Regions from separate parts of the Homo sapiens genome. Here region 1 is linked to region 2. The links come from fine-mapping of genetic effects on gene expression. Tissue or cell type: esophagus mucosa. Region 2 holds a variant in brackets; the other region holds the start of a gene. All regions are shown on one strand. Distances are between the middles of the regions.

What was found. PIP is the estimated chance that this variant, and not a neighbour inherited with it, causes the effect.
Region 1: LINC01239 starts here. The variant in region 2 is fine-mapped to the expression of LINC01239 in esophagus mucosa (GTEx, PIP 0.97).

What each region holds. Positions count from the first base shown.
Region 1 is chr9:22,641,588-22,649,779 of GRCh38, reverse strand. It overlaps LINC01239 (long intergenic non-protein coding RNA 1239), which reads right to left and starts at 3,580. Exons shown (of 6, transcript NR_038977.1): 1 at 3,484-3,580.
Region 2 is chr9:22,764,470-22,772,661 of GRCh38, reverse strand. All of the region lies in intron 4 of LINC01239 (long intergenic non-protein coding RNA 1239), which reads right to left. Among named protein-coding and RNA genes, the nearest start is that of LINC01239, 120 kb to the right of the region's middle. The variant T/G (reference allele first, on the strand shown) is at 4,840.

The DNA.
Region 1 (8,192 bases), 120 kb after region 2:
ATTGAAATTAGGAAATTTCTAAGAGAAATTATTGTGGTGACCCCCAAAGCACAGAATAGGGGCTACAGTACATGAGGCAATGTAGTTTGTCTGTAAAATGTGTTGTGATCATGTCTGTAAGAATCTGCTATTTCCTAAGAAAGAGTACAGCTCTGGTATTTCATTCTGGCATTAACCCCACAGAGCTACAGTGACTTATCAGCATGCCTTTATCCATTAGTATAACAGAGAGAACAAAAATATCCGCTAGCCATTCATTTCTGCAAACAGAGCTCAAGTGTTTTGCAACAAAGTTATTTTCCTATGCTTATGCCAACTAGAGACGTTTTGACTCCTATCACAACACTGTCACTAAATCTTTTCAGTTAACCATTTCTTCTTTCTCTTGGATAAAAATAAGTTACAGTGCCTAAAAAGTAGAATTATCCTTTGAAATGTAAGTCTCCAAATAGTTTGAATCTTTATACATAGAAATTTTCATTATGAAATGTAAAGGATTCTGAAATTAGCCATCAGAGCCTATGATTGTTTTCCCCATTTTAAAGTTCAGAAATTCATGTGACTGTTCCATATTTTATTAAAATTTTAGCTGCTTAAATCTTTTTTCTTTAGGTTTTGAGAGGCAGGTGCAATGGAGCGGGCGTGCAGGAGGTTGTATAATAATTGCAACCAAAAGAAAAAAGATGCGTGAGTTAGACTCATTGGTAGCTGAAAAACATTAACAGCCAGAAAGTTTCCTTCTCAAGCTTTAAATAAATATTTTATGAAATGTCAATAAAATTTTTCTAAAGATTAGATCTTGCCTCCTAAGAACCTTCTTGGTGTCTATGAGTGGAGTATTTATATTGACAACTCTCAAACTATAATGAAATGTATGTCACCAGTAGCAGCCAACTTAGAATTGGGCACTCCAAAAATAACCTGATTTAGTGAAATAACAGTTATGGTCAGGCCCATGGGCAGGGTGAGTATGAAAGCCACTGCTTTGGGACAAAATGATTATATAATGGGCTGTTTCGGAGCTACCTTAAAAGGAAACATATCCTTCTATTGCAATGGGATATTTCTGAGTTCTCTGCACCCCTAAAGCTCTTCTTGTTGCATTATTAGCTATGTGAGGAAATCATAAAGGGGATAAATAAGGGAGTTGGTGGGGGACAGGAATCTATTACCTCATACTCCAAAAACACTAATGGCTCACTTACATTGGTTATATATGAAATTTGAACAACATAACATCTTTTAAAAAGTAGTTCCCCTAGGTGGAGGGAGATGGGTGAACAAATAGGATCAATGTGGAAAACTTTTTGTCTACAGCACTATTGAATTAACACTTTCCCAACATTCTAGACACCTCACATCAAATAGTGGAGTTTCTATCCATTTGACTCATACATTACTAAGTAGCAATAGCTTTCTTAAAATGTCCATTTGTTCGAGTCAGTCTTTTCCTTAGAAATCTAAAAGAATTTTCATATAACTCTCTTAAAATTAGTATTATTTTCTCTCTATCATATACACACACACTCAATATTTTACTATACCCAGCACTTTGGGAGGCCGAGGCGGGCGGATCACGAGGTCAGGAGATCCAGACCATCCTGGCTAACACGGTGAGACCCCGTCTCTACTAACAACAATACAAAAAATTAGCCAGGTGTGGTGGCGGGCGCCTGTAGTCCCAGCTACTCGGGAAGCTGAGGCAGGAGAATGGCGTGAACCTGGGAGGCTGAGCTTGTAGTGAGCCGAGATAGGGCCACTGCACTCCAGCATGGGCGACAGAGCAAGACTCTGTCATAAATAAATAAATAAATAAATAAATAAATAAATAAATAAATAAATTTTACTATAAAAGAAGACATTCCTGTGTGTGTATGCTAACATCAACTGATACTATTATTTGCACTTTGTCCACTTGAAATACTTTCGTATTATCACCAAACTCACTTTCAAATCCCTTTGTAAAGTACTGAAGAGAAAATTTAGAAAAGGGTATGAGAAAGCAATTCACATAAGAAAATAAACAGGTAATATAACGGAAGTAGTATCTATATTTGTGAGTCACAAAAATGAACTAGAAATCACAGTGAGATATCATTATTCACTTTACACAAATGAGAAGATAGAAATAAAAGCATCGGCTGGGCGCGGTGGCTCACGCCTGTAATCCCAGCACTTTGGGAGGCCGAGGCGGGTGGATCACAAGGTCAGGAGATCAAGATCATCCTGGCTAACACAGTGAAGCCCCGTCTCTACTAAAAATACAAAAATTAGCCGGGCGTGGTGGCGGGTGCCTGTAGTCCCAGCTACTCGGGAGGCTGAGGCAGGAGAATGGCGCTAACCCGGGAGGCGGAGCTTGCAGTGAGCCAAGATGGCACCACTGCACTCCAGCCTGGGCTACAGAGTGAGACTCCGTCTCAAAAAAAAAAAAAAAAAAAGAAAAGAAAAGAAAAGAAGTAAAAGCATCAATTTCACCACAAAAAATTAATTTGGAGGATAAAGTATAATATGAGAACCCACTGGCATGATAATAATCCAGGAATTATACAGACTTCCCCCTGTTAAAAGCAATGCTAAGCTAGATCATGTGTACCAATTTACAAAGGTAAAATCTTGCTCTCTGAGGGCAGCTGTCTTCTAAGACAAAAAGGGTGGAACTATTCGGAGCATGTCTAATTGATTTTTTCCAAATTTATTAATCAGAGTGAATCACTCCATCTTCTCTGGTAGATAGTGAATAGAAGAGCAGAGAGAGGCAAGGAGTGTAGCACACGGAAGACCACATTCACCTGGAAAGAAATATCAGGACTGAGGACAAGAATTCCTCTCCACACCTTCTCCCCACCCCATCACCCTGCCAAATTCCAGTACAAAATAGTTTCACTAGCTGGTCTATCATAGCTTTGGAAAATCCAATAGTAGAGATTCAGTTATTTGAATAGAGTTTCTTTTTTAATAACAAATGACCCCAGGAGGCAAAATACCGATAAATCCTATAACCTTTAGTATGTTATCAGAAACGAAAGTAGCCTTGAGAAAAGGAGAGATCAGACTGGAAAAAGGAAAACGGACTCAGAAACTTAGTTATCTCAGCTATGAAAATTAGGTAGTTGAACTCCTTGAAATACAGGGCTCCATCCAATACTATGTACCAATTGTGGGATAACTAGAAGTAAATACAGAGTTAAAACTGTAGTCTCAGTTGTTGTCGGTAATAACAGCAGAGATTGCAACCTAAAGGGAATGTGCAGCACGATCAGATGCACACAATCTATTTTCCACTTCTCTAGTGTGTCTCAGCTTGTTAAGGTTAAATACAGAATTTTTTTTCTATTTTGCTTTATCTGTCAGTATAAGATAATTAAAAAGAAGTGAACTTCCTTCATCCATTTATCTTGGATGGCATGCACACTTTATTCTGTTATCACCAAAAACATAAAACCTAGAGAAAATGCAAATTAAAATTTTTATAAATGTACATACCACATAGTTTTATAGACATCTATGTTCCACTCTTAAGCCAGGGTCAAAGTAGAATTCTCTTTGGTCTCTCTTCCCTTAGAGGAACAGAAAATAAAAGACCGAGAAAACAGACTGTGATGGAGGATTCATTATAAGCCAAAACCTGAATCACCATAATTACACACAGTTCATAAGTGCAAATCGTACCCATCTCTTGGCAGATTAAAAAGCCAAGTGATGAGTAATATTGCTGAGCTAAACATGCCTGTTTCATAAGCCACTCAAATCAACACTCCTGTTATCCCTTGACACACAGGCAAAAATTCTATCTGTAAGCCTAATAAAATCTCATTTGTTTTACCTGAAGGTCCTATGAACCACCTGGTGCCTCTCTTTGCACTTGTTTTTCTCTATTAACTTATGCTTTGTAGAAATTAAGGCTTTAATCTGATAATTCTTTCCACTAGCTTTTAATTATTAGGTTAATGTGTGAATTTGAAGCAAGCAGTCCAATATGAAACTATTAAGAAAAAAGTTGAAAATGCTGAATGATATTAGAAATTCTAGACGGTAAAATTTAGACAATAATTAGTCTTCTGATTTTTCCTAATGACAGTTTGTAGGAAATACAGGTTGAGCATCTCTAATCCAAAAGTTCAAAACTGGAAATGCTCCAAAATCTAAACTTTTTGATTGCTGACATGATGCCACAAGTGGAAAATTCCACACTTGATTTCATATGACAAATCTCAGTCAAAACACAGACAGAACTTTGTTTCAGGTACAAAGTTACGTAAAATATTATATAAAATTATCTTCAGTTTTGTGTATACAGTGTATATTAAACATAAATGAATTTTGTGTTTAGACTTGTGTCCCATCCTTAAGATGTCTCATTATGCATATGCAAATAAATATTCCCAAATCTGAAAAAAAAAAAATCTGAAATCTGAAACACTTTTGGTTCCAAGCATTTTGCATATGCGATAGTCAATCTATACTGTACAATGCTAGGTTATATTCACAAAAGAGTTGTTCACAACAGTCTCAACTTTTGATTAGAAAGTTGTTATTGCGGTAGCTAAATCTATAAACTTTTTAGCACATCAATATGGTAACTGCTACACATAAATATAAAATTTATTTTTAGCTTTAAGTTTAATGACTTCTCTTTAAAAAAAAAGCTAATAGTCAAATACAATGTATGTTTTCAAATTTAAAATATTTTTGCTTAAGAGTAAGATTTAAGCTTAGTGACGAGAAAAAACCTGAGACGTTTCTTGAGATATAAATATTGTAGCCTTTAATTATTAAGTGTTTTCAGAAGCAAAAATTAGCAGCCAACTATTTGCTAATAAAGAATTAAGTAACTTGTACTTTAAATACCTTATTGGTAAACTTACATCCTTTTTCTTGAAGAAATCAACCATACTAAGAAAAAAACTCACAGAAAGTTTTGTAAGTCAAGTAAAGGTTTGGTCTTAACACAGGCTCAGTTATGATGCCTCCACTGAAATTTGTTCAAGTGTGGCAGAATATGACAAAAATATTCCCAGTTTCTGTCGATGTATGAGCAGAGAAAGAAAAATGTCTATTGTTTGTCAAGTCACTAAAATTTCATGCTCCCTATTTTGTTCTTTTTATTTTTTCATTCTATGTTGCTCTGTCTCATCTGAGATTAGTGCCCTTATAAAAAGAGATATGAGAGGGCTTGCTTCTTTTGGCTTTCCTCCATGTGGGAATATAAGGGAAAAGCAGCCATCTGCAAACCAGGAAGCCAGCCTTCACCAGACACTAGATCTACTGACACCTTCATCTTGGACTTCCCAGCCTCCAGAACTGTGTGGTCACATAAGCTACCCAATGTATGGTGTATCTGTTTTAGCTGCTCAATCTAACACACATGGAGGAAAGCGGACAGGACACAAGCCCTCTCATATCTCTTTTTATAAGGGCATGAATCTCATTCCTAGGGTTCCACCCTCATGTCCTAATTACCTCCCAAAGGCTCCACCTATAAATACCATCATTTTAATGATTAAACTTCAACATACTAACTTGATTTGGGGGTAAGGGTATGCAGATATTCAATCCATAGCATCCTGCGACCTCCTCTTCTCTAACCCTCCACCAACCCTTGACAATCATGAGGAAACTGACACAAACTATATAACTATATGCTTATATTTTTTCTATCCCCATCTATTGCTGGATCATTTTCTATTACATCTTTGCCTTATTACATTCCAGAATATGAGTTTATCCACAGAGAGCTCATTGCTTCCTGAGACTGTTCAATTATGATTTAGACAACACTAATTACATTTCTTTTTAAAAATATTTTTTTCTGGTGTTGAACCAAAATCTTCATCCCTTAATTTTCCTCCATGGGTTCTAGTTCTGCCACCTGTTTTCTACATAGCAACTCTTTCAAAATATTAAACTTCAGATTTCACATGCTTCTGAGTTATTTGACTTTTCTCCATAACAAGTATCAACAGTTGTTTATGCCATTTCTCATATAAAGCACTCCTTGTAACTGAGGAACACTGTGGCTTCTACCCAAGGAGGAGAAACTATGCATATTTGAGTGGTGAAGAAACTGAAACTGAGTGTGAGAAATCCAGTTGATATAATAATCCTGAAAAAACATTAATGTTAAAAGCATGCATTCAAAGAAGATATTCTTAGGCAATTTTCTTTGAAGTCCATGTAGATTTCCTGCTTTTTTGAAAGTATTTAAAATCAGAGAATGTAATGAAAACACCTGGTTTCAAATGCCAGCTCCACAACAGCATAGGTTTGTGATGTTAGGCCAGCTTCTCTACTTCTCTGAGTATCATTATCTAAAAGTAGGGGAAAAGAGTCATTAATTTGAAGTTAAATGAGATAATATTAATACATTTAAAGTGCTTTAGTCAGTGGCGAGCTCATAATAATTCACTACATATTAGTTATGTTTTTATATTCACTGGAAAACAATCAATAGTTTTCTGTAAAGTTGATGGATTGCAAAATGGGGAGGAGGGAATCTACAGATTTCATCCTTTTAACTGGGAAAGATATTTAATACTGAGAATGGTAATAAATAGGTTCCCAAATTTTAAAATTAGATTTTTTTGCTAATACCTGAAGATAATTACCATTTATTAGCATCTTTTGGAAAGCCTGGAAAAGGAGCAGTTTGACAAATGAATTTAAATGACTTATTTGGAATTCTAATTTCTGATTATTATAAAGATGGTTTTGAGGTAGTAGCTGCCAAAGATGGGACCACAAGTTAGTAGTGGTAAAACTAATACTATTTTCCTGAAACAAAATTGTAAAATACATTATCAGAGAATAAAGCAGTAAAAGCTGATGGTTGAAATGTGAAAATCTAAACTTCTGATTACTGAAATAGCCAGTAGCATCCAAGTTTAAATTACCACTGAGTATATTTTAAAGTGCATTTATATTTATTTATATATCTATATAATATGTAAAGTATTATATTTAAGGTATATTTACATATAATATATAAAATTTATATTTACATGTAAAAACAAATTTGTGAGTTTATATATATAAATAAAAAGTAAAAATGGAATAATTGAGTATTAGAATATTTCATATTTACTTTATGCATATAGCAAGTTATAAACACCCTGTGTTTTTAATTTATCCACTTCTATTAGATTTTTAGAGAGTTCATGTGTCTGTGAAGAATTTTACTCCCAATGCACTGGTTTAATAATTGCATGGATAAATCCTAAATGAACTGATAACCACATATTTGTTGTGCAATTACTATATACTATGTGCTGTCCAATGGACATTATATAAATCATCTCATTTAACCATCTCAACCACCATGAGATATAATTAAAATTGCCTGTTTTAACAAATGAGGATCAAAAGAGAAACCACAACTCTCTGAGAATGAATAATTTACCCAAGACTTGGAGCCGAAAGGGTCAAATTTGAATTCAGGTCTGTCTGAGTCTGAAACCTATGCCTTATCATAGGTTTGGTATGGGTATTTTAATGAGAAGGAAGTAAAACCATGAATATTTGCATGACCTAGAAAATTATTATCTGGTTCAGGTCCCACTTTTTCATGATGTAACAATGTATGACTTTCAATTTTGTTGGGAACATTTTGAAACTCTTGTGATATTTCAAAGTTTTACCATATAAAATATTGACAAGAATGCATTCTATAGGTGCTTTCCAAAGAGTTCAAAGCATCTTGCTAGAGCCTCCTTATCTGTGTTTATATGCGTTTTGTGTGTTCTAAGAAAAAGTGCTTTCTCTACAATGCAAAATACATAAGATCCATAAAATGACTTTATTAAGGAGAAAAGGAGACAATACCGTGCCTGATACCGTCCTGGTTCCCCTGCTTCACTACAAACTTTATTTTATTTTTACCAGATGGTGCTGTATTTTCTTTTTCTTTATAAAAGAGGCTACTTGAAGAATTATATTTCAGACCGTGCACTCTACTCTGTTAAATGGATAGTCACTGTTATGTCAAAAACAGACAAAAAGTTAATTTGGGTTTCCTAGGCTGTAGAGAATTTTAGGAGTCTCTCTCACAAATAGGGTCTCTTTTTTCATGTTATACTCTACTTCTGTTTGAAACTCTGATTACAGTAATATTAGATATCATTTTTAAATCTTGTTTTAAAAGTCTAAAGTTGCTAAAACTGAAATCATGTACTGTTCAACGTATCATGTGATCCCAC
Region 2 (8,192 bases):
GGTAAAGTCTTTCCACAGTCCACCACCATTAGGCTATACAAGGGGAAATACTGCACAAAATAACAAACTAAAATTTAATGTTTATTTCAAGGAAATGTTTTTACATCTCTCTTGAGAGATGTAAAAAAAAAAAGTGAGAAGAGAGAATGTGAAAACTGCTGCCCAAAAGTGAGCAATATAAGAAAAAAATGGTGTGGCAATTGTGCTTCATAAGTATCAAACAAGAACAAATAGCAAGAGCATAGTATGCAAAAAGGTAGACGAAGTACACAGTGCTGAAGAAAATATTCACGAATCAAGAGTTATATCCAATCACTGCAAAATGTAGAATAATTTGGTATGACTAATTTAGTAAGCTTCGACTTTAAGCATAGGATTGAAAGGTATATTTAATTGAGATTGCAGACTTGCAAAAACATAGAAAATCACTAAAGAACAATAATCTCAAACTGACAAATAAACACAGCCAAAACTTTAGTTACTTCTGAAATTCTCATCATAGAGAAAAAGATTGGAATAACTCTAACCAATGTAGATAAAGAAGGCAAATCAATTAGGCCATTCAGAAAGAACCTGATAAATCCAGAATATAGATAAGCCTAATGAAAATAGTTACGTTTGAAGTAGGAAAGTCATTAAATGAAATCGCAGATACATTTAAATACTTATGATAATTTCTCCTATAGTGAAGAAAGAACTGTATCTGTAAATCAAAAAGTACAGTATTTTAAAAAAGTAAAATCAGACACACAACATCAAGAAAAAGCAGTATTTACCAAGTTCTAAAGACAACCAATTGTGATCCAGCTCAAACCTCATTCTGGTGTGAGGATAAAGTTGTAGATGCTCAACTATAAAAAACAACCCCATGAATAATAATGAGTAATATAGCATGAATCTTTCTTATAAACAATAAAACAAAACAAAAACCCAGGAGTGATAAATTTGAGCTAATTAAAAGGTAAATAAGAAGTCAAAATAATAGTGGAATGGAAAGCCATCATAAAATGATTGTAGATGACATGTGATTCCATTTAAATAGAGAACAGATACAAGATAATTTCTCAAGTTGTGGCTATATAATCAAAGTTAATGTTATGAAACATATAAAATGGAATTAATAAACTAAGGGCATGAGGCAAAGGATCTAATGTCCTTATTTTTCATATCAAAGTGAAGAGATATTGTTTAAATTTGAAACACCATATTAAAAAAGGAAAAAGAAAAGAGATTACAACCACTTACTGTTCTTCATAATCTCATTTCTTACCTTAGGGAGAAAATTGCTTTTAAGATAGAACCTCATATAATAAAGAAATATTTAGCTGATGGTCAATAATTCCTTTATTTTTACTTAAGTTTGATTTTAAAATTAGCTTCTGGAGTGTTCACTTCGGCAGCACATAAAGTAAAAATTAGCTTGTGAGCATTATGAAGTAAAATGGTTGAATTTACCTTCCCACCAAAACAATTAAAAAGCTGAACAAATACAGGACAGAAATTTTTTTAGAATTTGGACAGCAAGCAGCAAAAGACTGTAGTCACTGAGAGAAGCCACATAAGCAGGGTGAGCCCCAGGATCCCACTAGCTTTATTTCTAGAGAAAAATTCTTAACCACACTTAACCATGATATTAAATGGACGACAAATAGAGCGCAGTGGATATGTTGAGTTGAGAAAACAGGGATCAGATTTGAGGGAGGGTGAAATGACTAAAAACTGGGGAGATGCTGTAGAGGGGAGGGAATTACTAAGGAAACAAGCCCTAGAAATCTGTACAGGGATCCCCTTGAATACTAAGCTATGCATGGATGAGGTGGAAGTTTAAGATTAGTAAAACGACCCCTAGTAAGCAGAAAGGTAAAAACTTCTCAGCTTTCATAGTGCTGTGAGCCACCTGAGCTCTGGAAAGGCGGAGTGAATATTTGTTGATCACTCAGTACATTCAGCAGAAACCAGAAAAGAACTATAGTATGGTAGTAGGGATTACCCATCCCCAGAGTAAGAACTATTCCAAATGAGCTCTTACAAAAGGCTTTAAAATAAGCCTGCAAGTAATCAAATTGATCCACAAGTAACAGCTGCATGCCTGTACAAAATCCAACATTTTAAAGGAAGACAACAGACCTAACACACAGCAACATACATTCAAAATATTGCAATTCCCGTAAAATAGGTATAATGATGACAAGAAGTGGAAATATGTGAGCCTTACCCAGTAGAAAATCAAACAATGAAATTATCACGGAAAGACTTTGAAACAAATATTATGTTTAATGTGCTCAAAATGTAAAGTTATACAAGAAAATAATGAAGGAAAATAAAAATTATTTTAAAAGGACAAAGTAGAACTTCTAGAGTGAAAAAAATAAAAAATTTACTGGATACATTTAACATTAGAATAGATACTGCAAAAATAAGAAAAAAAGACTGAAAAAAATTGTACAGAGCTTCAAGTGTATGTAGTATCAGATGGTCTAACATATGGGTCTTTAGAACACAAGAAAAAAGGAAGACAAGCATAAAATTTTTGAAGAAAATAACATCTATGGTTTCCAGGTTTAAATAAAACTCCAACCTTACTTATTTAATAATTTTACTAAACGCCAAGGAGGATAAACACAGTGAAAACCACATTAAGTAGTGCCATAATCAAATTGCTAGAAAACAGTGCTACAAAATCTTTAAAGCAATAAATACTTCTGACTTCAGCTCCTACACGGAGTTTGGAAGTTGTGACTCTCATCTCTACACCAAAGAAAAAACTCAACAAACTGAAAATCAGTGAGTTTTCTCGGACTCATCAGAGAAGAAATTATTTGCAGGATAAAATTTATCACCACAAAATGTAGAGACATGTGAATCAAGAGTCACAGTACAAATCTTCTTACCTGGAGTGAAAACCACTGGAGCCATAAATTGATAAATACACTTAATTGGTCATTTTGATGAAATGTTGATGGCTGATTGCAGATGAGTTTAAGAATGAGAAACTGCTGGGGCTGCAATAGGCAGGGGGAGTGGAAGGGCAGGTGGAACATTGTGTGTCTTACCTCCAGGAACCCTACCAGGACCTCATAGTGAAGATCTGAAAAAGATCCTTTTGTGGCTCTAGCAGAAGAAGGGAAAAAGAAATAAGCTAACAGCATCCTTCTATTACAAACGCCTACTGTCCACAGGATAAAGCTTTGCCATAGCTTTATCCTACTTGGAGGAATGGGCTTACTCTCACTGCAACCCTCTTGAGCCTTCCTGTTTCATGCACAGTGAAAGAAGGAATTTAAGAAACACTTGTGAAGGTCAGAGCCAGGAGCACAGGCCCAATAAAATAGCAAAATTTAATTTTAATATTACAGAATGCTTCCTCTCCTTCACAACTTACCACCAAAAAAACAGGGCTCTAAAATAATACATTGTATTTCAGCTAAAAGAGTTGTGAGACAAAGATTATTTGAGGAGGAATACTGAGGGAAGCCCAAGTCAACCAGTGACACAAAAATAAGGTCACTGGAGAAATTTGAAACCTCTGACACCTGCAGACGCATACACATTAAGCACAGCCCATCAGATATTAAATACAGTTTAAAGCACCCAGATTAACAAAAACCTTTACACTAAACGTGTACTTCAGTTTTTATTACCTGATACATCATGTCTGACTTTAAACATGGCAAAAGGCAAGAACGAACAGATTCTGAAGAGAAAAAAAGTATCAAAACCAGATGCAGATATAAAGTTGACAATGAAATTATCAGAGAGGGGATTAAAATGAACTATAATTAATATATTAAAGGCTTTAATGGAAAAAGTAGAAAATTTTTTGTGAAGTTTATATGAGAAGATAAAAGACCTAGAATAAATAATCAACCTAATAATGAAGAAGAACAAATTTGGAGGACTGACACTACCAACAAAAGGAATCAGGGCTTCTTAGAGAAATATCTAATTCTAAGACGTGGGCAGTTAATATGCAAGATGAGTTTTTGGCATCTTATAGTGTTTGAAAATGAAGAAAAATTTAAAAAGTGAAACAAACATACTAAACACAATGATGTATTATGTCAAAGGGACTAAGAGTCACCTGAAAGAGCTCCCATTGTCCAAAGCTGGAAACATCTGAACAGTAAAATAAAAGGTGGTATTGTATTATAAGCCAAAGTATAAAGTACCCATGTAATTATCCATGAATCCATATTGATATGAATAAATGACTGAACAAATAGAGATGAATGTCAAATAATATATGTAGATACTCTACCTTCAAAGAGGTGAAGCATAAATCTTTATTACTCAATTGTGAATTATGCGTAGTGACTTGCTTCCAAATGGTGCTATATAACAAGGGAGGAAAAAGAATAACTTTACAGTAAGAAAATCTGCAATTGCTACCTCATCCAGGTAATCATGGTTTACATCTACAATGTTATGTACACTTGGCATACTGTGATAAAATAGCTTTTCCACGATGATTTACCTCCATGCCTTACTTCTGTGCCTTCCCTCCATGTATCCCCATCATCCCAGTCTAATTATAGGAAAGCATCATACAACTCTCATTGTGGGAAATACCTGACTGTACTCTAGAAAACTGTCAAGGTTATAAAAACATGATTATCAAAATTCTTGTCTGAGAGTGTCACAGCCAAGAGGAGCTTAAGAAGACATGATGACCAAAAGTAATTTGGTATTCAGATGAAATCCTGGAACAAAAAAGAACATTATGAACAAAATCTGAATAGAATATGGATGTATTTAATACTAATGTATAAATATTGCCTAATTAATTGTAACAAATTTACCACACTAATGTAAGATGTTAAAACAGGAAAAACCTGCATT[T/G]ATGGGGGTAATGGCAACTCTGTACTCTCTTCACAATTTTTCTGTAAATCTAAAATGGCTCTAAAATTAACAGTTTATTTTGAAAAAGAGAGAACAGGTAAACTTATAAAGACAGGAACAAAACTAAAATTAATACAGACTGTTCATTAGACAGTAGGAAAAAATGCTTGAAGAGCTGAAAGAAGAAAACCATAAACTTAAAATTTTATATTCATCAAAAATGTACTCCAGATCCTTCCTATTACATATAGAAACACGACATAAATGTTAACTATCAGTCTTCCTATCAGCATTGTACTGATGAACTAACTCATCAAACAAAAAGAAATATGAGCTATTAGGTTGGGAAAGTGTGATAGATTGAATTTCAGCCCAAATTCTTTCTCCCCTCTTTATATCTGTTCTTTTCGTATACAAGTTTCAAGTACTGTCCAAGTCTGGGCAGGAAATTTTACTCAGCCCTTAATGTTGTGATTCATAGCTTTGGCCACGTGCTGTTTGTAAACAAGACACAAATAGAGACTTCGCACATACTTAGATAATTGGACTTGTTTACCTTTGCACCTCTACTTTCACCATGAGAACTTGCCCAAGTTATTCTGAAGAATGAATGTGGGACATATGGAGCTTCACTGCATAGCCAGCCAACTGTAGACAGAAAATGTAACTCAGGAAGACACAAACAAACAAACAAACAAAACACAAACCAAACAAACAAAAATCCCACCAAACCTAAATCTCTGATTTTCAAATTCACAATATGAATAATTATTAGAACAGTGAGTTTAAAGTCAACTTTCTACATAGTATTATTGTGGTAATACGTACTAATACAGAAAGAGTAAATTTTTATTCTAAGATGATATAATTTCATGTAGAAAATTCAAAATAATCTACAGACCATTATAATTCAAAAATGGATTAAAGAAGTTGGGTGGATCCAAGGTTAATGTAGAAAATTTATTTGTGTTTGTATATGCCAACAATAAACAATTATAAATAAAAATTTAAAATATGATTAATAATTTCATAAAAATTCACATAGTAATGATGCAGTAAAAGATATACAAGACTTTTATTCTAAAAATGTTGAAATGTTATTTGGAGAAACTAAAGAATACTTAAAACATTAGAAAGTTTATGAAAGTTCAATATTGTTAAGATGCCAAATTACTAAATATTGATCTATAAATTTAATATAGTTGCAATCAACATGTCAGCAATTTTTTTGGTGAAGATTGATGAGCTGATCATAAAACTTATATAGAAACAAAAGTTCCCCCAAAAAACGAAGACAATCTTAAATAGCAAAGAACAACATTAGAGGTCTTATATTCTCAAATTTCAAGACATGATAAAGTTATATTAATTGAGGAGTTAATTGTGCATTGTTAGACAAATAGACCAATGGACAGAAAAGAAAACCTAGAAATATACCCACATATTTCCAGTCACTCCAATATAGTCACCTAATTAGAGCAAAAGAGGATGGACTTTTCTGTAAGTGACAGTAGAATGTTTGGTTATCTATATGGAAAAATTATGAACCTTGAGATTTACTTCATACTATTCTTAAATATAAATGTGAATTTGATCTTAGACCTAAATCTAAAATTAAAGCAGTCAAACTTGTGTGGGGAAAAAAAAAAACAGAATATATTCCTGACTTAGGATTACGCAAAGGTTTCTTAAACAGGAAAAGCAATGACAACAAATATAAAACTCAACTGAATTACATTAAAATTAAAAACTTCTGTTTCTCAAAATCATGATTAAGAATTGAATAAGCAAGCCACAGACTGGAAAAAAATATTTACAATACAAGAATCTGGTAAAAGGCTTATATCCAGAATGCATAATACACTCCTACAAAACAATCAGGAAGAGGTAAACAATCCAAATTTTAAAATGGCAGAGATGATCAGGCAATTCACAAAGTAGCATATTCAAACCAAAGATATATGAAAAGGAACTCAACTACATTACTATCATTATTCATCAGGAAAATGCAAATTAAATTCAAACTAAGATTATAATTACACATTCACCGGAATGTTTAAGTAAAAAATAATGAATACTAAGTGTCAGTGAAAATGCGCAGAATTTTGCTGGTGGAAAGGAACATTTTTACAATCATTTTAGAAAACTCTTTGACACTATCTACTGAAATAAAACATAGACTACTATGTCACATAGCAATTCTTCTAAGTGCATACTCAGATAAATCTGGGCATATAATCACAAAGCACATGTACAATAACCTAATAGAGCTTAATTCATAACAGCTAACACTTAGAAGCAATGCAAATGTCCAACAGCAGAAAAGATAAACAAATTGTGGTATATTCATACAAAGTAACACTGAGCAATCATATTAAAAAGAACAAACTGCTGATATAATAAATAACTTAATAAATCTCTAAAACACTAGGTTGCACAAAGGAAGCCAGGCACAAATGAATATATATTTTATTATTACAACACTATGAATTTGAAAGTCAGGGCAAAATAACCTAATTGTATTTTGTCATCCTAACCTTATACAGGGAATCCAAATTCTCATAAATTCTTGTTCCTGGTAAATAGCCATCTAGCAAGTCCTGATCCTGATTCTCAGCCTCTATTAAGGTCCAGATCAGCAACTATCCTCATGGAAAAATGGTAAGAAATCTTCAGTTGCTTCACCACTCCCTGGAGAACTTTACACCCCTCCCTGTTTTTCCCATGGATTCTTCTTCTTTTTTTTTTCATATTTAATAAAATGTTTTATTTTAAAGTTAATTAATTCATTTAATTATTATACTTTAAGTTTTAGGGTACATGTGCACAACGTGCAGGTTTGTTACGTATGTATACATGTGCCATGATGGTGTGCTGCACCCATTAACTCGTCATTTAGCATTAGGTATATCTCCTAATGCTATCCCTCCCCCCTCCCCCAACCCCACAACAGTTCCCACTGTGTGATGTTCCCCTTCCTGTGTCCATGTTTCTCATTGTTCAATTCCCACCTATGAATGAGAACATGCAGTGTTTGGTTTTTTTGTCCTTGCGATAGTTTGCTGAGAATGATGGTCTCCAGCTTCATCCATGTCCCTACAAAGCACATGAACTCATCATTTTTTATGGCTGCATAGTATTCCATGGTGTATATGTGCCACATTTTCTTAATCCAGTCTATCATTGTTGGACATTTGGGTTGGTTCCAAGTCTTTGCTATTGTGAATAGTGCTGCAGTAAACATACATGTGCGTGTGTCTTTATAGCAGCATGATGATTTATAATCCTTTGGGTATATACCCAGTAATGGGATGGCTGGGTCAAATGGTATTTCTAGTTCTAGATCCCTGAGG